7 linked regions of the Homo sapiens genome follow. The protein of the gene in region 1 purifies or fractionates together with the protein of each later gene. This does not show direct contact. Each region holds a gene or a part of one and is shown in the gene's direction. Other genes may lie near its edges. The genes, in order: FAM177A1, TGS1, CLCN7, OSTM1, STEAP3, NCEH1 and FAM204A.

What was found.
Region 2: the proteins of FAM177A1 (region 1) and TGS1 purify together in Homo sapiens (affinity purification with mass spectrometry; 3 studies listed by BioGRID and IntAct, with this or other methods). This does not show direct contact.
Region 3: the proteins of FAM177A1 (region 1) and CLCN7 purify together in Homo sapiens (affinity purification with mass spectrometry; 3 studies listed by BioGRID and IntAct, with this or other methods). This does not show direct contact.
Region 4: the proteins of FAM177A1 (region 1) and OSTM1 purify together in Homo sapiens (affinity purification with mass spectrometry; 2 studies listed by BioGRID and IntAct, with this or other methods). This does not show direct contact.
Region 5: the proteins of FAM177A1 (region 1) and STEAP3 purify together in Homo sapiens (affinity purification with mass spectrometry; 3 studies listed by BioGRID and IntAct, with this or other methods). This does not show direct contact.
Region 6: the proteins of FAM177A1 (region 1) and NCEH1 purify together in Homo sapiens (affinity purification with mass spectrometry; 2 studies listed by BioGRID and IntAct, with this or other methods). This does not show direct contact.
Region 7: the proteins of FAM177A1 (region 1) and FAM204A purify together in Homo sapiens (affinity purification with mass spectrometry; 3 studies listed by BioGRID and IntAct, with this or other methods). This does not show direct contact.

What each region holds. Positions count from the first base shown.
Region 1 is NC_000014.9:35,049,272-35,052,771, forward strand, and holds part of FAM177A1 (protein FAM177A1 isoform 1 precursor), read left to right. Parts: intron 1-3,500.
Region 2 is NC_000008.11:55,800,946-55,804,445, forward strand, and holds part of TGS1 (trimethylguanosine synthase), read left to right. Parts: intron 1-1,511; coding exon 1,512-1,661; intron 1,662-3,500. UniProt on the Homo sapiens protein: Catalyzes the 2 serial methylation steps for the conversion of the 7-monomethylguanosine (m(7)G) caps of snRNAs and snoRNAs to a 2,2,7-trimethylguanosine (m(2,2,7)G) cap structure.
Region 3 is NC_000016.10:1,465,029-1,468,528, reverse strand, and holds part of CLCN7 (H(+)/Cl(-) exchange transporter 7), read left to right. Parts: intron 1-3,190; coding exon 3,191-3,262; intron 3,263-3,500. UniProt on the Homo sapiens protein: Slowly voltage-gated channel mediating the exchange of chloride ions against protons. Functions as antiporter and contributes to the acidification of the lysosome lumen and may be involved in maintaining lysosomal pH.
Region 4 is NC_000006.12:108,054,242-108,057,741, reverse strand, and holds part of OSTM1 (osteopetrosis-associated transmembrane protein 1 precursor), read left to right. Parts: intron 1-3,154; coding exon 3,155-3,252; intron 3,253-3,500. UniProt on the Homo sapiens protein: Required for osteoclast and melanocyte maturation and function.
Region 5 is NC_000002.12:119,226,834-119,230,333, forward strand, and holds part of STEAP3 (metalloreductase STEAP3), read left to right. Parts: intron 1-3,500.
Region 6 is NC_000003.12:172,645,068-172,648,567, reverse strand, and holds part of NCEH1 (neutral cholesterol ester hydrolase 1), read left to right. Parts: intron 1-453; coding exon 454-682; coding exon of another isoform or gene 683-706; intron 707-2,875; coding exon 2,876-2,945; intron 2,946-3,500.
Region 7 is NC_000010.11:118,325,325-118,328,824, reverse strand, and holds part of FAM204A (protein FAM204A), read left to right. Parts: intron 1-2,581; coding exon 2,582-2,671; intron 2,672-3,500.

The sequences.
Region 1 (3,500 bases):
TAAAATTTCAGTACCACTCAGTGATTGATTTATTTGGTACCTCTGTTACCAAGCACTTACTATGTGCCAGGAACTCTAGGCTGAAAGATATAGCAGTACCTACCCCCATGTTGCTAATAGCCTAGTTGGGGAAGATGACAAAGAATAAATTCTAAGTCTAGTATGTGTTTTAAAGAAGTCTGGGTGCCATGGGAGTATATACAAAAAATTGCCATTAAAACCAGATCCTGAGCTGGGCAGAGTGGCTCACACCTATAATCCCAGCACTTTGGAAGGCTGAGGCCAGTGGATCACTTGAGGTCAGGAGTTCGAGACCAGCCTGGCCAACGTGATGAAACCCTCATCTCTACTAAAAATAGAAAAATTAGCTGGGCATTATGGCTCACGCCTGTAGTCCCAGCTACTCGGGAGGCTGAGGCAGGAGAATCGCTGAAACCCAGGAGGTAGAGGTTGCAGTGAGCCAAGATCGCACCACTGCATTCCAGCCTGGATGACAGAGCAAGACTCCTTTTCAAAAAAGAAAAAAACAGATCCTGAGAATAAAGATAAGCACATTTATAGTTTGGTTAACTATAAAATGGAGTAAAATGTTAATTGACATGGTACCTCATAATTTCCTGGTGTTATGAAACTATCTTTCAGATCTTTGGGGTTCGTTATGGAATTTGCATAATTGGCAGTGAAATTTTTCTTACTTGCAGATTTATAAAATGAAGCATTTGGAAAATTCACAGTGTAACTTTTTTTGTTTTTTGAGACAGAATCTCACTCTGTTGCCCAGGCTGAAGTTCATGGCGCGATCTCGGCTCGCTGCAACCTCCACCTCCCGGGTTCAAGCAATTCTCCTGCCTCAGCCTCCTGTGTAGCTGGGATTATAGGCACGCTCCACCGCGCCTGGCTAATTTTTGTATTTTTTTAGTAGAGGTGGGATTTCACCATGTTAGCCAGGGTGGTCTCACACCCTTGACCTCAAGTTGTCTGCCCGCCTCAGTCTCCCAAAGTGCTGGGGTTACAAGCATGAGCCACCATGCCCAGCCACAGTGTAAATTTTATTTGTAATTATTGGATTTCTGGTTCAAGTTGATGTTTGAAAAATAAAAAAAGAAAAATATTTTAAAAATATAATTATTGGGAATTTTGTATCAAATGATTTTCTGGTTGGTTTTACCTGTTAGTGCTTCCTTCATTGCCCCCCACCCCGCCTCCCAAATAGAGGTTGGAATCATTATCCCTCATCTGAAATACTCTAAAATCTGAAGCTTTTTGAGCACTGACATTCCTTCCTTTGCCTGTGTCATAGAAGGAAAAAATTAAGCCAATGAGAGATTGCTAGAGGTAGCAGTGAGAAGCCTCTACTGTCTTGGGGGTGGGATAGGGTGGGGCATGGTGGTATACTGTGAAGGATCTGAGCTCTCTATTCACTGACTGGAGCTGTTGCATTGACATTAGATCCATCCAGTTAGTAGGATGACTGGAGATCTAACTTAGCTCATCTGTCTTTCCTTTGCATAGGAAATTAAGGGATCCAAAAAGCTGAGTCATGGTCCAAAAGGAAACGTTGATGTCAGGACAGCCATAGCCAAATTTTATCTCAAGGGTAAACATGAGACTGGGTAGGGATGGCTGTCAGTGCCTGGGGATTGGTGGGGCTTGGGGGTAGGTAGAAGAAAAGTGTCCTGGGTTAACTACTTGTTTATTTTTTTCATGGACACAATAAATGACCTGATCTTTCCTTGTTAAGGGCTGGGATTTATTTGAACCCTCAGGACAGGCTAGAAAGAATTGTGACTTTTTTTCATGTTAATACATAGGTAGCCTATGTTACCAAATTTTATTTTTTAAGATAGTTTATTATTTTTATTTTTTGAGATGGAGTCTCGCTGTGTGACCCAGACTGGAGTGCAGTGGCACGATCTCAGCTCACTGCAACCGCCACCTCCCGGGTTTAAGTGATTCTCATTCCTCAGCTTCCCGAGTAGCTGGGACTACAGGTGCGTGCCACCACGCCCAGCTAATTTTTGTTTTTTTAGTGGAGACAGGGTTTCACCATGTTGGCCGGGCTGGTCTCCAACTCCTGACATCAGGTTATCTTGCCTTGGCCCCCCAAATTGCTGCCATTATAGGCCTGAGCCACAGCACCCAGCCTTATTTTTATTTTTTTGAGACAGTCTGGCTCTGTTGCCCAGGCTTGAGTGCAGTGGTGCGATCTCGGCTCACTGCAACATCCACCTCCTGGGTTCAAGTGATTCTCATGCCTCAGCCTCCCAAGTAGCTGAAATTACATACGTGTACCACCATGCCTAGCTGATTTTTGTATTTTTAGTAAAGTTGGGGTTTTGCCATGTTGGCCAGCCTGGTCTCGAACTCCTCACCTCATGTGATCCTCCTGCCTCAGCCTCCCAAAGTGCTAGGATTACAGGTATGAGCCACCACGGCTGGCCTGTTACCAAATTTTCATGATCTGCAGTTCAAATCCTGGCTAATGACTAAACTTACCTTTGGGAGGTAAAAGGCAGAGAAGAATCATATCTGTTTTCTAAGAAGGACCTTAGAAGATTAAGATGAAACAATGTATAAAAACAAAGTAGCTTATACTTGCATAACTGGGCAGTTCACTGTTTTTATCAGTATAATCCTTTTTTTGCAATAGCAATTCAAAGAGCTTTTCCAGTGGTTGAACAGCAGTCATGGGTTTAAATTATGTTTGCTTATAACCACAAGAATCTTTATAGAGAACAAAATGTTTGTACTCTGGACTATCCTAGAGAATTCTACGAACATAGACTGTAATCATGACATTACTGTAGTCCTGTATATGCAAAAAGAATAAAAGCCCTCCTTTGACTACTCCCTTGCCTTCTGCTTCTCCCCCATCTTAGTTTCTACCCATGGGGTAACCACTGTTGCCAGATTTTTCTTCACAATTGTATGTACTGTACCTTTTTGAAATCTGGAAGTTTAAACTTCAGGCAGTTTTCTTTTTTTTTTTCCGAGATGGAGTCTTGCTCTGTTGCCCAGACTGGAGTGCAGTGGCGCGCCTTCCAGGTTCATGCCATTCTTCTGCCTCAGCCTCCCGAGTAGTTGGGACTACAGGCACCCGCTGCTGCGCCCAGCTAATTTTTTATATTTTTAGTAGAGACAGGGTTTCACCGTGGTCTCGATCTCCTGACCTTGTGATCCGCCTGCCTCGGCCTCCCAAAATGCTGGGATTACAGGTATGAGCCCGCGCCTGGCCCAACTTCAGGCAGTTTTATTAGGAGTTTAAACTTGAGGCAAGAGGACAATGAAAAGAAGCTCTTCACCATCTCCCACTATATATATAGATATATATAGTGTAAATATATAGGAGTAAAATTTGTATTAGAATTCCAGCTCAGGCACAGTGACGTATGCCTGTAATCCTAAAACTTTGGGAGGCTGAAGTGGGAGGATTGCTTAAGGCCAGTAGTTGGAGACCAACCTGGGCAACATAGCCAGACACTGTCCCTATAGAAAAAAAA
Region 2 (3,500 bases), on another chromosome or scaffold:
GCTGAAGACTGAAACCAAATAACCAAACTGATAAAAATTATTTAAGGAAAAAATCACTCTCTGAATGAATGAGATCCTTTTCCGTGGAATGGAGCTAGTGACCCTTGTTTCAGTTTCTCAGATGCCATGTGACTTCAATGTGGCTGACAGCTAGAGCCTAATCTAGTCCTTGATAGAAAGGAAATGTTTAGATTTCTATAATTCACCACATAAAGCAGTGTCTTGGCTAACAGAAGTAATAACTTTTATGTCTATAGCAGTATTTCTACATATGTCCTGTCACTGCTGTGAATTAAGTTAGTAAAACACCACTCACTAACTCATTCATTCATTCTTTATTTTTTAGACAGAGTCTTGCTCTGTTGCCCAGGCTGGAGTGCAATGGCGCATTCTCAGCTCACTGCAACCTCCGCCTCCCAGGTTCAAGCGATTCTTCTGCCTGAGCCTCCCGAGTAGCTGGGATTAGAGGCACCTGCCACCGTGCCCAGCTAATTTTTGTATTTTTTTTTAGTAGAGATGGGGTTTCACCATGTTGGTCAGGCTGATCTTGAACTCCTGACCTCAGTGATCCACCTGCCTCAGGCTCCCAAAGTGCTGGGATTATAGGCATGAACCACTGCGCCCAGCCCCATCGTTCTTTTTTTTTTTTTTTTTTTTTTTTGAGACAGAGTCTTGCTCTGTTGCCCAGGCTGGAGTGCAGTGGTGCAATCTCAGCTCACTGCAAGCTCCGCCTCCCGGGTTCACGCCATTCTTCTGTCTCAGCCTCCCAAGTAGCTGGGATTACAGGCACCTACCACCACGCCTAGCTGATTTTTGCATTTTTAGTAGAGATGGGATTTCACCATGTTGGTCAGGCTTGTCTTGAACTTCTGACCTGCCTCAGCCTCCCAAAGTGCTGGGATTACAGGTGTGAGCCACCTCGCTCAGCCCACTCATTCCTTTTATAGGAATTAATAATTGGAGTTTAGGCCAGGCACAGTGGCTCATGCCTGTAATCCCAGCACTTTGGGAGGCCAAGGCGGGTGGATCACAAGCTCGGGAGATCAAGACCATCCTGACTAACACGGTGAAACCCCGTCTCTACTAAAATACAAAAAAATTAGCCGGGCGTGGTGACGGGCGCCTGTAGTCCCAGCTACTCGGGAGGCTGAGGCAGGAGAATGGTGTGAACCCGGGAGGCGGAGCTTGCAGTGAGCCAAGATCGTGCCACTGCACTCCAGCATGGGTGACAGAGCCAGACTTCGTCTCTAAATAAATAAATAAATGAATGAATGAATGGAGCTTAAAGACCCTCGGTTACTTTCCCAAGCTTACAAAGCCAATAAGTAGCAAAATGCTGGTGGTGATTGAAGCCAGTGGCGTTTCCATCAGGCTCTCCTGTTTCTCTGGGCGTGTCATTATATACATGTTCTGCTTGTAATTATTTGATGTGGCTTCATTTTTAGATAAACTCACCTGTGATACTAATTTTTTTCTTAGTGAGCATCTATATTCTTTGTATTTTATTTTAGCTGAAGTGAAAAAGAAGAAGAACAAGAAGAAGAACAAAAAGGTGAATGGTCTGCCTCCTGAAATAGCTGCTGTTCCTGAGCTGGCAAAATACTGGGCCCAGAGGTACAGGCTCTTCTCCCGTTTTGATGATGGGATTAAGTTGGACAGAGGTAAAGTATATATGTATTTTTTAGCTTTATTTTGAAACCACTTCAAACTTAAAAAGAAAGTTATAAGAATAATACAGGGAATGTTCATATCCCCTTTACCCAGATTCAGCTATTTTCAACATTTTGCCCCGTTTACGTTCTCATTCTCTCTCCATATGTATGTGTGTGTATCTTTTTCTGATCAGTACTTAACACACATCATGCTCATACTTCTTAATACTTTAGTGTATATTTGCTAAGGACAAGTATATTTTTGTTTAAAATAGTGAATTATCAACTTAACATTGTTCCAATATTTTAATCTACAGTTTATACTCTAATTTCATTAATTGTCCTAATCTTGTCCTTTATCACGTTTTTTTTTTCCTTCCAGTATAGGATCATGTATCATTGCGTTTATTTTTCAAGTTCTTTAGTTGCCTTTAATGTGGAATGTTTCCTTAGCCTTTTTTGTCTTTCATGACTGACATTTTTCAAAGGATCAATGGCCATTTATTTTATAGGATGCCCTTCAATTTGGGGGGGTGTGTGTGTGTGTGTGTGTATTTTTAAAATTTCAGACTTGGGTTTAATCTGTATTTGTAGCACGTTAGGATAGATAGCAAAAGCAATTGATAAATTATTAAACAGAAAACCTGATGAAGAAATATCTAGTGCAGAAGGATACAATTTAATGAATTAACTTCGCAAATTTTGAATTCTTTCTCCAGCTTTCCTGCTGTGATCTGCAACAGCTTACTTAACTCAGTCTTGCAGACTGATGCTCGTTTTCATATTGGGGTTACCTAAATATTGGTTTTTATTAACTATCAAAATCAGAAGTTCTTGATCTATGATGGAATTTCAGGGGTTCTCTGACCCTTTTAAAACAATTTGCAAAATGCTGTGTATTGGAAAAAGTACGTAGGAATTTGTAAGGAGAAATAAGGCTGGAAAACACTTGCAATTCTATAAAAGTGTATATTCTTATTTTTCCAGTATTGAAGAGCCATTTAAAGTTTTGGTAAGGGGAGACAACAGGAAAATTAACGCACATTATTTTTATTTATTTATTTTTCTTTTCTTTTCTTTTTATTTTTTCTTTTCTTTTTTTTTTTATTTTTTTTAGACAGGGTCTCACTCTGTCACCCACGCTGGAGTACAGTGGCACAATCTTGGCTCAGCAACCTCCACCTCCCAGGCTAAAGCAATCCTTATGCCTCCGCCTCCTAAGTAGCTGGGATTACAAGCAAGCACTACCATGCTTGGCTAATGTTTTGTAGAGACAGGGTTTTGCCATGTTGCCCAGGCTGCTCTCAAACTCCTGTGCTCAAGTGATCCACCACGCCCAGCCCAGCACATCATTTTGTTCAGATAATTGTCTTTCTGAAAAATGTAAATTTTTTCTACTAGGAAAGAAGGAGGTCAGTATTCTCTTTACTCTAGAGTGGACACAGGACCTCATTTCTGACAATGATGAGGGCTCTGCTATTCCTCCTGTACTTCTGCAACCCTATGGCCTTTTGCCATCCAGTTCCTTGCTTTTTCCGACCCTTTAAAAGCATGCAGTTTTGGCCAGGCATGGTGGCTCATGCCTGTAATCCCAGCACTTTGGGAGGCTGAGGCAGGCAAATCACTTGAGGCCAGGAGTTCAAGACCAGCCTGGCTAACATGGCAAAACTCTGTCTCTCCTAAAAATACAAAAATTGGCTGGGCATGGTAGCGTGTGCCTGTAGTCCCAACTACTCAGGAGGCTGAAGCATGAGAATTGCTTGAACCCAGGAGGCGGAAGTTGCAATGAGCCAAGATCATGCCGTTGCACTCCAGCCTGGGCAACAGAGCAAGACACTGTCTCCAAAA
Region 3 (3,500 bases), on another chromosome or scaffold:
AATTTATAAGAGCTTGCATTTAAAAAAGAAAGTAACCGCACGGAATGCATTGCTGAACTTGAAGTAAACGTCGTGTTCTTCCATTACGAAAGCCACCTTCTCAAAGTCCTGGCAGAGTTAAGGAAAGAGATGCTGGGAAGGCAAGGCGCCGGAGCCCCATCCTTTCACTCCGGGCAGGGGCAGCTGATGCCCTGCTGGGGGGCAACCCCTCACCCCTCACCCCTCTCGGATCTGCCAAGGCGGCGGCGGTGGGGGTGGCCCGCTGGTCACATACTGCACCGGCAGCCTTCACCTTGGCCTGAATGCATGTGCGGCTCTGCCTGCTGCTGTGGGACAGTGCTGTCGTGGTGTAGACGGTGGCCCTCCTCAAGGCCTCCCAGGCCTGGCGCCCAGGACATGTGACTGTGGCTGTTTTCGTTTTGTTTGGGTTTTTTTTTTTAATTTTAGAGATAGGGTCTTGCCGTGTTGCCCAGGCTGGAGCGCAGTGGTGCAACCATAGCTCACTGTAGCCTCGACTTCCCAGGCTCAAGCGATCCTCTTGCCTCAGCCTCCTGAGTAGTTTGGGCCACAGGTACACGCCACCATGCCTTGCTGATTTTGATTTTTTGTAGAGACAGGGTCTCACTACGTTGTCCAGGTTGGCTTTGAACTCCTGGGCTCAAGCGATCCTCCTGCCTGAGCCTCCCAAAGTGCTGGGATTACAGGCGTGAGCCACCACGTCCGGCCAGAATGATCCGTTATTTCCAGCAAGGAATAGCCTGAGAAGCACGGCAGGCCTTGAGTGGCGTTAGAGAGAAGTGCTGACATCTTGAGTGATGGAGAGGGTGGCCCTCTGGGCAGGGTGTGTCCCACAGGGTGCCTGTTTGGACGTGGGGTCCTTCCTCATGGTGAAATGGGTCTTTTGGGTTCCGTGGTCTCTGTTTGGGGCATCGGGGCACCTGTCCACCTGGGAGGTGGGGGTCAGAGGCCCAGCGCTGGTCCCAGGGCTGTTTTCTGGTGGTGAGACCTGGAGTCCAGGGGCTTTGATGTGAGTGTGAGCAAGAGGGAGTGGGCAGCTGGCCAGGCCACTGCTTCCATCATGCCTGGACCGTGGCACCTTCCTCCTCCCACCGTCAGCCCGTGTGGCAGGAGACTCAAGCTGTGAGTTTCGCCTGTGACTGAGGGCTCAGGGAGAGCCACTGGCATGTGGCAAGGCTGGGGGAAGAGGAGGGGCAGGCGCCCTGTGACTCAGGGTTGTGTCCAGCAGGACCTGTGCACTCTAGCCCCTCCCACACTCTCCCCTGGGCGTGGAGATGCCACGGCAGACACCTGCGAGTCTGTCTGTCTGTCTGTCTGGCCTCTGCTCCTGGCTTTTGATGGGGATGGCCTGAGAGTGCTCTTTGCCTGGGGAGAGGAGGAGGCTCTGACTGGTGTCTGCCAAGGGCCAGTGGCACGTGCCCAGGTTCCTTCCCCTGCCAGGGCCACTTACCGGGTCATCAACACGGGGGGTGTACAGCAAGGGCGACGGTGGCTGGTAACAGGACGATGGTTGGGGAAGGGGTCCCTGGAGGGCAGTGGGCTGGAAGGTCAGGTTCTTTTTTTTTTTTTTTTTTTTTTTTTTTTTTTGAGACAGAGTCTTGCTGTTACCTAGGCTGGAGTGCAGTGGTGCGATCTCAGCTCACTGCAGACTCCACCTCCCGGCTTCAAGCGATTCTCCCGCCTTAGCCTCCCAAGTAGCCCGCCTACTTTTTGTATTTTTAGTAGAGATGGGGTTTCGCCATGTTGGCCCAGCTGGTCTCGAACTCCTGGCCTCAAGTGATTTGCCCGCCTCAGCCTCTGAAAGTGCTGGGATTACAGGCATGAGCCACTGTACCCCGCCGGGAAGGTCTGGTTCTGAAGGCAGTTTCTGGGATGGCGGTTTGGGGAGCCCGTCTCCTTCAGGGGTGAGCACTCCAGAGAAAGCAGGACCCCCACCCCTGGCTCGCAGTGACCTCAGATCCCAAACCTTCCTTCTCTGCTTCTGTGTCCTTGCCTGTGTGTGGTAATCGTGATCCCCGTGGATAGGTGGAGGTTGAGGGAAAACTGGGCCCCAGTGCAGGCCGTTCCTGCACGTCTCCCCGTCCCCACCTCGGCCCTGTGGGCTCCTGGCGCCATCACCTGCCGTTCTATCACCAAGAAGCACTTCCAGGCCCTGCTGAAACCTGGTGCGGGAGGCCGAGCCTGAGGAAGGTGGAGGGAGAGATGGGGGGATGAGGAGGGGACGGCGTTGGGGGCCGGGAGGGCTGCTCCCAGGGAAGGCGGGCGGCAGCCTCGTTGGTCTTCCCACGGCCGGTACCAGCCGCTGGACTCCTCCGCCAACACTTTCCTGACAGGCGCACGGGCTCTCTGATGCAGATGGCGGGCGCCCTGCGCATGCGGTCCCTCCACCTGGAAGGCAGCCCTTCTTCCCTTCATGTCCCCAGATGTTGCTAAAGATTCAGGAGATAGTGGAAATTGGAGTCGTCTCCAAAGGATCTCTTTGGGGAAAGGAGGCTGAGGTCTTGGCTCCTCCTAGCCTGGCCTCAGCGCCTTGGCTCTAGTAAGGAGCCGGAGACTGGGGTGGGAGCTCCGTAAGTCACATCTGCACCACGCCACCCAGGGCCCGCTGCCCTGCCCCTGCCCTGAGCTGGGGCGGCCGCAAAGCCTTAGGTGGCTGAGACCCCACCCAGCTCTGCCTGACAGCTGGGCGTCCTGTGGGGAGGGCAGCGTGAACACTGTGGAGCCGTTTGTGTCTCAAGACCCAGAGAGGCTGCAGTGGAGGTGACTCTGTGGAGGTGGCAGGTGGCTGAGCAGGGCCTCGGGAGCAGGGTTGGGCAGGATGGCCCAGGGTGCTGTGGCGGGCACTGCATTGGGGGCGGCGTGTTGTCCAGCCCTTCTTTCCTGGTGGGTGGCAGGTGCCTCGCTTTCAGTCTAGAGCAGGGAGCTTGCGCCCTGGACTCGGGCTGGACGTGTCGCTGACAGGCCGAGGGGCAGCCGGATCAGTTCTGCTTCCAGGGCCCAGGGAGGCCCGTCCCAGCCCTGCTGCCCCCACCCAGCAGGCAGGCCTGGCCTAGCCCATTCCTGAGCTCCCGGGCAGGGTCAGGCGAGGCCAGGGTGCGGCGGCGGGAGTGAGAATCCACGGAGCAGAGCGTGCGACGCCTGAGCGCCCTCATGATTTCTCTTCTGCTTTTAGTCACCACGTTCTGCGCTTTTCCGAGTCGGACATATGAGCAGCGTGGAGCTGGATGATGAACTTTTGGACCCGGTGAGTTGGGGGTGTTCCCCGTCCTCCCGCAGAGCTAGCTGCATCTTAGCAGAGGGTGACAGGGATGGGCACGGGCCGAGCGGCAGGGAGATAGTGGGGCCCCAGGGCCGGGGTTCAGGGAAGATTTCCTTGGGGGGACATGGTCCCTGACGCCAAGTGAGCAGAGGCAGCTGGGCAGAAGTGCTCTCAGACGGAGGAGTGCAGGGCGCAGGAAGCCGGTCAGGACAGCAGTGACAGC
Region 4 (3,500 bases), on another chromosome or scaffold:
CCCATTATATAAATGAACTGCTTTATGCTTTATGTTACCACCATCTAATGATCATTGAAAAAGTTTTGATGGTAATGCATTAATGTAATTATTAATAAAAGAAATTAAGTTCTTTTGTTCTTCAGAGAAGCTTTCTTTATAAATTGCTTTTGCAAAAGAAATTATTTGTTTTAATTAGGTATCTTGCATAGAAGAAATTTGCTATTGCTCTCTCATGATAATGCACTTTATACTACTTTTGCTGGCAGTATGTGGACCCCTTTTATCCCTATATTGTTATGTCAGTTGTCACGACATAGCTCATTATAACACAGATGTACAACTGTTGTGAATGAAATTGTGTTCCCTTAACTTCCCTGCAACACATCAACTACAAAAACTATATAATTGTTTTTGTAAACATGTACAAAAACTATGTAATTGTTTGTTTTTATTTATATCAACTCTGCCTCATCCCTAAAAGGATTGCGGGCTACTTCATGATGATATTAAACTAGCATTAAGAGGGGCAATGAGACAAGTTCTTACTCTTTCATGCAGGTTGGAATGCAGTGGCGCAATCACAGCTTATTGCAGCCTCGACCTCCCCAAGCTGAAGCAATTCTCCCCTCTCAGCCTCCCAAGCCGCTGGGACCACAGATGCACGCCACCATGCCTGGCTAATTTTGTATTATTTGTAGAGACAGGTTTTCACCATGTTGCCCAGGCTGGTCTCGAACTCCTGGACTCAGGCAATCCACCTGCCTCCCAAAATGCTGGGATTACAGGTGTGAACCACCATGCTGGCCTATTTTTATATCAATGGCTTATTAACTTGTGGTATGATCATCAGCATATCACCTATTTCTGTGGCTTAGTTTCCTAATTTGTAGTGATCCCTCAGATTTTTTAAATAAGGGTGAGAAGTTAGAATGAGATTCATGTTCTGGAGAAGATAAAGCTTCAGAGAATGTAGAGTATGTGAGTTCAGAGAGGGGACAACTCCTGAAATAGGTTTACCAAGAGGATCCTGTGTACAATGGGTGCAGAAGGAGCCCTGCACAAGGGGGCTGTACAAGGAGGTGAATGGGGCTGAATTCCAGCTTAGCTTCTGGAGGCAGGAATGACCTTTTGTAATTTATCTACCCAGAGGGAATATCTTTTTCTGATTTGCACAAAGGAGCTTTACTGTGCTGTCTGCCCCTGTCTACCAGGTTTAGGTTTCATCTCAGTTGCTAACTCTGATCAGTTGGTGGGGACTGCCTGAATCCCTGTATGGTGTAAGATATCTATGGGTAGTGGAGGGAGTAGGCAGTGGCATGTATTTGTAGATTCCGAGTCTTGAACTTTTAATGGTTTAGAATGTAGATATAAATATGTTTATTTTGCAGTGTTTGAGAGTGCAGGCTCAAGAATCAGACTGAGTACAGAGTCTAGCTTTTTACTTACCAGTTTTATGTCCTTGGGCAACTTCCTTAATTTATCTAAACCTATCTCTGTTCCTTATTTATAAAATGGAGATAATGATAATTTTTCCCTCATGGAATCACTGCAAGAATTAAATGGGCAAATGTGTTTAAAGTGCAGTGTAAGCATAGTTCTTAGAACATAGCAAGTATTTAGTAAGTGTTAACTTTCGTTGTAGTAATTGTTGTCTGTCAGAGTACATGGATGTCCCTTAGTGTGTCATATCCTAGTGTCTACCTAGTCCGTCTCTCTTTTCTCCACAAATTCTACTTGCCTTGCTGCCTTTCTCCTGGGTAATTGCAATAGCTTTGCATGTTGTCTTTCCACTTCCAGTTGAGAGAGATCCTATCTGATGGCCCTGAATTTCTAAATAAGGTGGGCATAATACAAAGCCATCTGTTGAAATTAAGGGGAACAAGAGTAGGGCTGGGACTAGAGATGAGAAAATATGTGGAACATCCCTTGCAGAGCAATTAGGAGGGCATCTACAAGGATCATTTTGTTGCCCCGAGATCAGAACACATGAATTTGAATTGAGTCCCTTCATTATCATTTTAGAATTTCTGTAGTAGTATTCTGTAACCAGACTGAGAGTACAGAAAGTAGATGGGGACTGTCCAGGGATGAAAATGGCTGTGAATATGTGGAAGATAAAGAGGGCAAGGATTCTAGGAGAGTCAGATGGAAACGACTGACCACAAGTTCCAAGATCTGGAACCAGGCAGTTGAACCTCGATTGGAGATAGCAGGCTGAGAACACAAGGAGAGGTAAAGACAAAGGTTTACCTGAGGATAAAGACTAGGTTCCCTGGCTGAGCGCAGTGGCTCATGCCTTTAAGTAATCCCAGCACTTTGGAAGGTTGAGGTGGGAACATCACTTGCGCCCAGGAGTTCAAGTCTGCAATGAGCTGGCAAATTGTGCCACTGCACTCCAGCCTGGGCAACCGAGCAAGACCCCGTTTCTTAAAAAAAAAAAGAAGAATAGATTATTCCCTGAAGAAGGGAAAATGGATACATAAATTGTGATATACACATACATAGAAAATAAAAGGGATGAGTGAACTTGAGCTAACTCTAAGCAAGAATAGCCAGTTGCAGAGAAATACCATTTATGTAGGATTTTTAAAAATGTAAAACAATTTTGTTTCTAGACTTTACTTGAAGCCCCCACGTCAGTATTTTAGGCAAAATTCTCACCAGTTTGTTTCTCTGGGCTCCCAACTCGTGATGGATTAGAAAGAGCGAATTTTAAAAGTTACCCCATTAGGTACAATAAATGACTCATTAGTGAAGTTGGAAGATGCAGAGAACTATGAAATTTGACACAAAAAATGATAAGGCATATGAGTTTCGGTAAAATTAATGCAGGGTAAACAGTCTTATGCCTAAATAGCACTGTTAAGGCAGCATTTGATAGCTGATATTCCGTGATTATGACCTTGTGCCATCAAAAGTCCATTTGAATTTTATTTGGTATATTTTTATGAAAAGAGAGTATGTGATTATTTTAACATGTTCATGAAAATGGTTATGACTTTTTTAACTTTTGGAAAATAAAAGGAGTAAGCTTCATATATTTGGAAAATTCATGCTTGTTTGAATAAAGAATTACTGTAGTGTGAAACGAAGCTGATAGCTTAAGATATAAATGACAACATAGAATTGTTCCTTGAGTTATATTAATATACTTTTTGAATTTTTTTGACAGATTGTTTAACAAACAACAGTGAAGAATTATCAAACAGCACAGTATATTTCCTTAATCTATTTAATCACACCCTGACCTGCTTTGAACATAACCTTCAGGTATTTTATATATAATATTTAAAATTAAAATGCTGCCTTGTACAAAGGAATAATGTGCAGTTCCAAGTTTTTAGAGCACTAATTATTGATATTTATCTAAATTCATGATGTAAAGGAGTTAGTGGACCTGGATTTCTGCTCTTAAGTAAGTTCTTCTACTTACAAATCATGAAAACCTCAGTTCTCTCATTGTAAAATGGAGATAATATCTATCCTGCCTATCTTAAAGTATTTTGTAATGAGAATCT
Region 5 (3,500 bases), on another chromosome or scaffold:
AGCTCATTTGTACCTGGAGACTCTTAGGAGGTCGATAATGTTATTCTCCCAACCATGTGACTTTCCAACTCCATATGGACCCCAACCTCTTTTTTTCCACCCCTAACCTGAGACTCCTAGCCACTAACTAACTGCCACATTCTCCTGTCCAAATTCTGCCTCATCGGTTATTCATTCAACAAACACTTACCGAGCACTAACTTTGAGCCAGGCACTCTAAGACCAGCTGAGTCCCACTTCTGGCAGGATGAGTGTTGTTGTCATCAACCACCCCACAAACACCCGTGCCCTCTGCGTACTTGCGAATCTGAGTGAGGAGACACGGTGGCAGTAAGGCTCAGGACCTATAGCTCATGTGAGTGAGCAAGGATGCAAAACCAAAGACACCCGCTCCCCTCACCCACTGAGCTGGAGGGATCAACCACTGTGCCTGCCATCAGGGCTGATGGGCGACTGCTTGTGGATCACAAACTCTTGCGTTGTCACTTCAACCCAGGGGCAGAGTGTGTTCCTCTTCAGGTGTGGCCTGGTCTCGTGAGCCCTGCACTGAATGGGCCAGGCGTTCATTGCTTCAGCACCGTAAGAACACTGTCACCGGAGAATTGTTCGATACTCAACTCTTCCCAGTCAGTCTGTCTTCTGCATGCCCACAGTTACCGGGCAGCGTGGGCAACAAGTGAGCACTGATTGTTCCGCAATCAGGCTGTGACTTACTCCATCTCTGCCTTCTGCTTAATGAGAGCCAGGTGGGAGTTCAGCAAAGATCACATGTTTAAGCCTTGTTATTAAACACGTTAAAAAAATACTGCCCCAAGATTATAAAGCCGACTTCGGTACATATAAAGAGATTTGGGGTCGGTGAATGGGCCCACTAAGCTTTATTTTGTGGTGTCAGCTGTCTTGGTTCATGTGTAGACAGCAGGGCTCCCAAAGCCAGCATGCTGGGGTCTGTGAGGGAACAAGCTTCCCATTTCTTGTATTTATTTATTTATTTATTTATTTATTTATTTTTTGGAGACAGAATCTCGCTCTGTCACCTAGGTTGGAGTGCAGTGGTGCCATCTTGGCTCACTGCAACCTCTGCCTCCCGATTTCAAGCAATTCTCCTGCTTCAGCCTCCTGAGCAGCTGGGATTACAGGTGTGCTCCACCACACCCAGCTAATTTTTGTATTATTAGTAGAGATGGGGTTTTGCCATGTTGGCCAGGCTGGTTTTGAACTCCTGACCTCAGGTGATCCACCTGCCTCGGCCTCCCAAAGTGCTGGGATTACAGGTGTGAGTCACCACAGCCGGCTGCTTCCCATTTCTATAAGCATCCGACTGGTGGGGTGGCCAGTAGGCTGTGGGGAGTGGTGCGTGATTTTCCTGGTGGGCTTGAGAGAGTAACAGTATACCCCCAGTCAGGGCAAGTGTCTCTCTGAAGGTGAACTCTGGGTGCACAGCTAGAGGATACAGTGGCTGTGAGCTGGGCCCTCCAGGTGAGGTCTGGCCTGCCCATTGCCACAGTGGGCTTGCTGGCATCCAGGGGGGCTTTCTGGGTGACTGCCCAGGCCTGCACATGAGTCAGTAGCACGCTGAATGCAGTGGAGTTTGAGGGGACCCACCACTGTCCATCAAATCGCCCCAACCTGGGTGAAAGGCCAGAGCAGCTGCGGGAAGTGACACCAGGCCCTCTGGAGATGACCCTCTGGCCCTTGGAGATGTCTCTGGACTGGCCAGAAAGAAGGTGGTGCCTGGAACTGGAAGGGAAGGAAGCAAGACAGTGCTGGGCCCAGCAGCCAGAAATCAGGGTGATGGGTGGGTGGAGGGGCAGGCATCTGGGAAAGCCCTGCCCTCCTGGTGTTCCCAGATCTGAAGGCTGGAGGCTGGAAACCTTGTGTCACCTGTGCTGGTGTGAGTTCCATTGGGGCTGCCGCTTACCCTCCCATGACCTTTAACATCTGGCATGGCTTGTGGGGGGTGCTGAGAGGAGGAGAAGTCTCAAGGCTGAGGGAGCTCAGGGTAGAGCCAAGGTCTCAGTGAGAACCCCAGGGGGCAGCTGTCACAGCTGACCTGGAGCCCTCCAGGAACGCGTACTCTCCAGCTCCTGTACTCTCAAAAGCAACAGAAAGGTTTGCTTTCCTCAGGTGCGGTTTCCTCACAGTGCAGCTTCTCCAAAGAGATCTGGAGACCCCCCAGCAGCTTTGACAGGAAAATAGAGTCCTATCCACCCCACACCAACACACTGAAGTAGAGACTCTGGGCCTGGGGCTGCCCAGAAACCCACCCACTTAAACTGCCCGGGCGATTCTGGTGTTCACAAATATTTGAAAGCACTGCCTGACACCTGCTGGCTCAACAGGTGTCCACCTAGGCTGGAGTACAGTGGTGCCATCTCGGCTCACTGCAACCTCTGCCTCCCAATTTCAAGCAATTCTCGTGCCTCAGCCTCCCGAGCAGCTGGGATTACAGGTGTGCTCCACCACACCCAGCTAATTTTTGTATTATTAGTTCACCTAAGCAGAGAGCGATGTGAGGGGCTGTGAGGATGTGCAGGGGTGGAGGGCACTTAGGTCCCTCCCTCAGCTGACCATAGAGCACCCAGAGTGGCAGAGGGGCCACGTGCAGTGAGTGGCCACAGCAGAGCAAGGAAAGGTGCACACAAGAACAGTCCTAAGGAAGACATGTGTTTAGGGGTTTCATATTCACTGTTTAATCATCAGGACAGAGAGGGAAAGCAACCTACCCAACGTCACACAGCTAGCACATGGCTGGACCGGAATTCACACACATCTCTGTCCAGCTAGGTCCCCCAACTAACACAGCTGCCTGTCTGAATTCAAAGCCGGGAGAGATTGTCAGGGGTGGGCGTTGGGGGAGATGGCAGGTGCCTTAAGTGCCCAAGGCCTTGGGCTGGATCTTTAAGGAAGGGGGATTGGGATGGGCCAGGAGGTTGTCAAGATTGGAGATGGAAAGAATGCCATTGGCTGTGGTGGGGGGTGGAGTGGGCAGGGACTGGAAGGAGGGGTAGTGGAAGTCAGTCCCTGCCTACAGGCCTGTGTTAGACTCCGCGGAGATTCAGGAATCTAGCCCTGCCCACAGGGGCTTTCACTCCAGTAGAAGAGAGGAGACCCAGGGGGCCACAGCAGTCAGAGAACAATGAGGCCTTGGCTTGGTGTTTGGTGATGATAGGGGAAACCTGCCCAGAACCTGTTTATCAGATGCTCAGGGATCTGAAAAACAGGTTCTGCATGTGGGCTTGAGATAAAGATGCCCGGGATACTTAGATGTGCCCTATTCCAAGATCGCTAGGTTCCAAACAAGTTGAAAACAATAGAATACACTTATCCCTAAGAATGGGCTTGCACATAATTCACTTCAACAATGCAAAAGCTTCCAAACCTCCAGCCTCCTTTGGGCTGCCGGTGTGGCCTCCAAGGTCCACTGAAAAGCCATCCCCAGCCAGCAGAAACATGCCTGTGTCTTCTTCAGCCCCCGTCCATGCTTTGCCCTGGAGACA
Region 6 (3,500 bases), on another chromosome or scaffold:
TTACAAAGGAATTTAAAGAAATTAAAGTAAATAGAACATTTTCCTCTTTTATTTGCATTGAAATAAAGTATTATTTCTTTACTCCTAGTATGTTATTGGAACTGTGATATACTTATTTAGAAAAAAAAGGTACTGAATCCTGGAATTCAAACCTAATCTTAGGTTTGAGTCCCAGAACTACCACTTATCCAATGAAATGAACAAGCATAGTTATTGTTTAAGCCTTCTCAATAAAATGGGACTGATGATACCTGAGGAGATCTCATGTATGAAAATATTTTGTCCAAAAGCAAAAGGTAAATACAATTGGTTTTTGTATTAAAAGGGCTCAATGAGCCCTCCAGTCCAGTGGCAGCTGCTTGTAGGAATTCAGACACTCAGTTGGTGAGGGCAGCTCTGGTGATGCCAAGTTGACGTGCGCCCTCCCTCTTTATTTCCTCCCTCGCCCTGCAGAGTAACCTGATCCACTACCTGGGACTGAGCCATCACCTGCTGGCACTGAATTTTATCATTGTTTCTTTTGGCAAAAAAAGCGCGTGGTCTTCTGCCCAAGTGAAGGTGACCGACACAGACTTTGATGGTGTGGAAGTCAGAGTGTTTGAAGGCCCTCCGAAGCCCGAAGAGCCACTGAAACGCAGCGTCGTTTATATCCACGGAGGAGGCTGGGCCTTGGCAAGTGCAAGTGCGTCCTGGTCACCTTCAGATGGTTTGTTGTTGTGGTTGGCCTTGGGGGAGATGCGTAACTGAGTTTGGCTTTCTTAGTGGGAAAGAAGGGGACCATTTATCTAGGTTCCCCTGGATGGTCCCAGTTACCCCTGTTGTCCCAGCAAAATTATGACTAGTGCCCCCTTTTCACTCTCAAAAGGGTCCTGGTTTGGGTGATAAATTAAATGGTTATCCTTTGTAAAGGTTTTTTGCTTGTTAGTTTGTTTGTCAATTCAGGTAGACTGTTGTAAAAATATTTCCTATGATCTAAATCACAGACTAACTTATTGTGCAGTGCTGATACAGCTTTCTGCACCAAAACAAGGTGAAGTTTCACCAGGCACGCATATGGGGAATTATCTGTGCTTCTTTTGCCAACTTGTGTTTTGAAGATATATTTCTATGAAATAGACCAGGTATTCCTTAATACACATGTTAACATTTTATCTGCTTATGAAAGCAAAGGTAAAAATATATGCAACCATTCAAAGGAAACAATCTTGCAAAGTTCAAGAATATTTTCTTTAGATTTGGATGATTTTTATGAGTAGAACACATTCAAAATGGCAGGCAGCCAAACAGAGCCGCCCAGAAGAGAACCTCCCAAGGCGGAATTCGGGGTCTTGTCTCTGCTAATAAATGATCATGGAGCTACTTCCTCATCTTCAGTCCAGAGCTTTTGGCATCCCCTTAGTTTAAAAGCAATGGCAACTTGTTTTTTTTATTTTATCATTATGTGATTTTTTTTTAAAAGCAACAAAGGTCAAAAGGTTTGACTTTTTCTAGTAATCTTATTTAATTCCATATCCGTTGTTTATTCTTTTATTCAGTGATTTTTTTTCACATTTTCAATAGCTGTTCATGAGTATGTAGGTTTGCCCGAGACCAAGGGGTTTGCTGGGCTGCAGGTCTTTCAGTGCAAAAGCTCAAACAGTTGTGGGCAAGTCTGGACCATTGGTCAGTCTAAGGTGTGCTCGGGTGTAGGGATACAAAAATGAATAAGAAGGAGTTTCTGCCTTAAAAGAGATTGAATCTGTAGCATTGGACGCTTGCCAGGAAAAACATTGTACTGGAGGACAGCAAGTATGGGTGCCAGGAATGGGATGGATTACAAGAGTCAGCCTGGCCTTTTCTGCATAATTTTGACTGATCACTTCTGCCTGAGGAAGAACTTGAGCAGGTGGAGGTAACAGGTGTCTATGTAATTCTTAAGCTTCCGATTCTAAGACTGCCTTGGAAACCCTATAAATAAGGAAATGTTTGGCTCTCAGTTGGCACAATATAGATCTTAATTTACTGAGAGTAACTAAGAATTAAATTCTTACATATTAAATTGGTTCTGTTACTGCAGACCTTTGGAATCCTCTAAGAAATGCTAAGACTTCCTAAAATTCTAGTTTTTTACGTGTTCATTTAAAGAAAATACCATATTCTTCAAATTGATCACTTTACTGAACTGCAGCAAATGAAGTGTTAAAAGAGCAAAATTGTTAAAATTATTATTTTTAGACATAAGATCTCACTCTGTCACCCAGGCCAGAGTACAGTGGCTCTATCACAGCTCATTGTAACCTCAAACTCTTGGGCTCAAGTAATCCCCCTTCCTCAGCCTCCCAAGCAACTGGGACTGCAGGCGTGCACCACTATGCCTGGCTAATTAAAAAAAATTTTTTTATAGAGGCAGCATCTGGCTATGTTGCTCAGGCTGGTCTCAAACTTCTGACCTCAAATGATCTCCTTCCTTAGCCTCCTGAAGTGCTGAGATTACAGGCATGAGCCACCACTCCCAGCCTAAAATTGCATGATTCTAAGGAAGAGACTGCTTATTTGCTGTGATTTTTTTTCCAGAAAGATGTATACATTTGAAGAGCTATAAAATCAGGATTAATTTGGTGCATTTCATATAGTCCGTTATGAAATAAATATTTAGATAGTAATATATTCAAAACTAAACTATGCATTTCCTGTTATATAGTAGTTGCATGTTATTAGAAATCAGATTTAATTTTTCATGTGTACATGTAACTCTATTATTTGTTCACATTTGCTTTTTATTATTTGTTTTTAGTATTAGCTCCAAGCCTAAAAACAATTCACACTTAGCAGAATTTATGAGTGGACAGTATTAAATGACCTGTTTTGTAATGATTGTTCCCTTTGTGTCTTTTAGAAATCAGGTATTATGATGAGCTGTGTACAGCAATGGCTGAGGAATTGAATGCTGTCATTGTTTCCATTGAGTAAGTAATTAATGCTAGTCATAGAAAATTTTTCTTATAAAGGAATTCTAGATAACAGTCTGGTTACTTTGTTTTACAAGTGATAAAGTAAAAAATAAAGGTCTCAAGTTGGCAAAGAGATATGCCCAAAGTCACACTCAGCATAATCAGAAAAATGATTTCTGATGTAACAAAATTTATTGAACTAGCTTTATAACACTTCAAATTACCTTTTCACCGTTAGTTTTGAAAACTGAAAAAAGGATTAACTAAAAACCTAGAGAAGTATGCAATCAGTTACCTGCAACATATAACTTTTTAAATCTAAAAAGTAGTAAGGATTTTAAGAGAATCTCTTCTACAGCTGAGAGTTGAAAAAGTTGCTCTCTTAGAGTCAGGTTCTATGACTTGTGCCTTGGGAACAGAAATACGTGTTCAACAAATTTTAATGGTGTGGTTAGTAGTAATAGTAGTAATATTAATATTTTGGGTTGTCTCTGTCAGTTCTGTATAAGCCACTTTTCTGGGCAACTAAGAAGAATGTGAATAATAATTATAATAATTTTGATGATAATA
Region 7 (3,500 bases), on another chromosome or scaffold:
AGGAGATAGTGGGTAGTTTTAAGAATGAGGACATGGCCAGGTGTGGTGGCTCATGCCTGTAATCCCAGCACTTTGGGAGGCCGAGGCAGGCAGATCACGAGGTCAGGAGATTGAGACCATCCTGGCCAGCATGGTGAAACCATGTCTATACTAAAATACAAAAAATTAGCTGGGCATGGTGGCACACGCCTGTAGTCCCAGCTACTTGGGAGGCTGAGGCAGGGGAATCGCTTGAACCCAGGAGGTGGAGGTTGCAGTGAGCTGAGATTGCGCCACTGCACTCCAGCCTGGCGACAGAGTAAGACCGTGTCACCAAAAAAAAAAAAAAAACAGTTGACATATATTTCAGCATGCATCAGAATCATATGGATTGCTGGGCCGCCAGCCTAGAGTTTTTCCACAGAATTTGCATTTCCAGCAAGTTTCCAGGTAATGTTGATACTGCTAGTCCAGCACTTAAACTTTGAGAACCACTGGCTTAGAGTTTAGTTGATAATGGTAATTGTGGGTTGCAAGTTAGAGAGGGAGAAGGAGTATCTAAGAAGGGACTGAAGGACCGTGCCAGGGAATGAGGTTCCAGTAAAGGCAAAGCAGATGAATTAGGTAGAAAGACTTGGGGTGAGTGGAAGAATTGTATCAGGGAGTAGAATTCTAGATTATGAAGTTGTGGAGGCGGAACTTTCAGGCAATGTCTATAACATGACATACAGCAGTCTTACTCCAAGTGCATTGATATACAAAGAGATAAGGAGTGTGTGCCTGAATGTAACTCAGTGTACTACTTTCCTTATGGAGAAATTCTTGTCCCCGACTACCCCCAGCAAAAGCCATCTGGACAAAACTGTTTTGTTGTTGTTTTTAAGAGACAGGGTCTTGCTCTGTCACCCAGGTTAAACCGCAGTGGTGTGATTATAGCCCACTTCAGCCTCAAACTCCTGGGCTCAAACAATCCTCTTGTCTCAGCATCCCTAGTAGCTCTGGGACTAAAGGTGTGTGTCAACATGCCGGCCAGTACAAAACTGTGTTTAGTCATGAAGCTGATTTGTATTCTGGCACAAGCTCCTTATCTTTACGTGGACCAAAATAAACAGTTCATGGATTGGCACTGTGTACAGACCAGACCTGGTACACAGGCCATGACTGAAGCAGCACTGGCCTAGAGTATAGATTTCTGAAGTGCATCAAGTTAGAGGTCCCAGGGTGTTGTTTGGACCATCAGGAGAAGAGTTCTGCAGAAATGGAAGAAAGGGATGTTTCTGGAGACTGGTAGATGATCACAGGACAAGAATGAGTGGTGAGCATTAGATCCGTATGGCCTCAGGTCAAAGACTATGAAGCGCTGTTGAATGGTCTCCAGCTACACAGGAAAGCAAGCAGAAAAGTCTGTTGGCCTTGCAGGTATTAAGTACTTAGGTGGGGTCTGTGAGAAGGAATCGTCTTCTCTTAGCAACAGACATCAGTGACAGCGTCACTGGTCTTTATTTCTGTAACCTTTTTAGGCAAATTATGTTGTTATTTTTTACATCTCATCTCAACAAAGGCTACACAGGAACAAAATTCTCTCAGTTGATTGGCATGTTCAAACAATAGACTGATGGAAGAGACATTCTTAGGACTTCTGTTATGAAATAAGGAGGAGAAGTCTGTAAGAGGTAGAGTATTAACTGTGAATGTGGAAGTTAAAGGACTAGATAAGCCATTGTTGGGATAAAATTTGCTTCTAAGAAGCATATATTAGACCATCTTTTAAATTTTTTATTATCTGTAGCAACTATTTTCACAAACTAGAACTCCAGTTATTTAAGTCTAAGCATCTTTTTATAAATGTGTAACGCATTGTACCCTAGTCTGTTTGGTAATCCCATGAAAATATTAATTATGATTTCCTGAAGTATCTTTAGTAAATAAAAACATATACATAAGAAAATAAAATCATTCTTATGTATAATTTTCCTCTGCTGTTTAATATTCAGCCTAATGGTCATAGTCAAAGGCTGTGGAGGCTATTGACTGAAAGTCCTGAGCTATAGGAATGGGCAGTAAGAAAAGGGACAGAAGAAACTTGTGGTTGAGAATGCAGGCTCTGAGCAAACCTGAATTCATGTGATGGCTTTACTACTTACAGACGCTGGCTTTGGCCAAGTTCAGGAGTCTTGGGCTCTGTTTCCTCATCTTTAAAACAGGATAGCATTATTATTCATGGAGTTGTTATAAGAATTAAATGAGCTTTTTTACAGTATTAAGCCCAGAATCTGCCACGTAATAAACACTCCATAATTTTTAGCTATTGTTATCATTAACATTATTGTTGTTATTAAGGGAAAGCATAGGCTTTGATTCACAAAAATCTGGATTTGCGTCTTATTTTTATTAGTTCAAGAAGTTACATGACCTCAGGTAAGCCATTTACTGTCTCAGCCTTCTGGTACTAATGGGAATGGTAGCAGCTACCTTCTGGTGTTATTGTGAGAATTAATGGTCTACTTGTGTAACACATTCAGTATAATTCTGTGACATGGTCTTGGCTAGCAAATGTTTGCTTTCCTTCCAGCCCTTAATTTTAGGTTTCTTTTTTTTCTAGTCAGGCCTTGAAAAGAGGATAGACCAGGCTGTGGAGGAGTGGAATATTGAGAAGGCTGAGGAACTCAGCAACCAGCTAGCTACTCGAGAGGTGAGTCAAAAGGGTTACACATTTTCTGTATTTTCAAATTTTCTAGAATAAATTTGTATTCTTTTTATGATCATTAATAAGTTCAGTATTAAAATATTTCATCTGAGGTTTTCCTTTTTGTCCATTTTCTTCTCTTTTATTCTGTCATTTATTTTGAAATGCTAGGTTTTATTTTGTCTTTAATGTTTTTAAATCATTCTGGTCTAAAACTTGCTAGAAATAATCCATGATTGATACTGAACCTTAGATTTTACCTGGATCAGAGAGGTTTGTTTCAGGTATGATTAAAATGCTAGCTTTCTTTTCCGTTTGCATCTTTAACTCATTTGAACTCTGAGGGCAACTGTGTATTCTAAGGCCACATCCCTGAACCTTTTCTTAACCCTTGGTAAAATGCTTTCTTACTGTTTGCTCAGCACATCCCCCTCAGCCCTAAAGAATTTTGGGTCTTTTTTCTTTTTTTCTATAGTATAAAACTAATAGATATATTGGGTATTCTTTTGCCAAGTACAGAAGGCCACAAGAAGATTCTGAATTATACTCCTGGAGGTGGGGTGTGGGCAAATTCCCCCAGTTGAGAATTAATGTCAATATAGATTAAAGAGCTCATATTGGCATGTGTTTTGTTATTATTGTTGTTGCTTTGTAATTCCTTTTTTTCCTTTCTAGGAAAAAATCTCCACCATAGTCTTTTTTTTTAGTGCCTTGATCCTTCCCTCCTTCACCTCAGACTTTAACTACTCCATAGTGTTTCGTTACGTAGAGAGCATCATGGGTTATCTGGGTAAATTACTGGCCACACTCACTATTCTGACTTGCAGGTGGACTT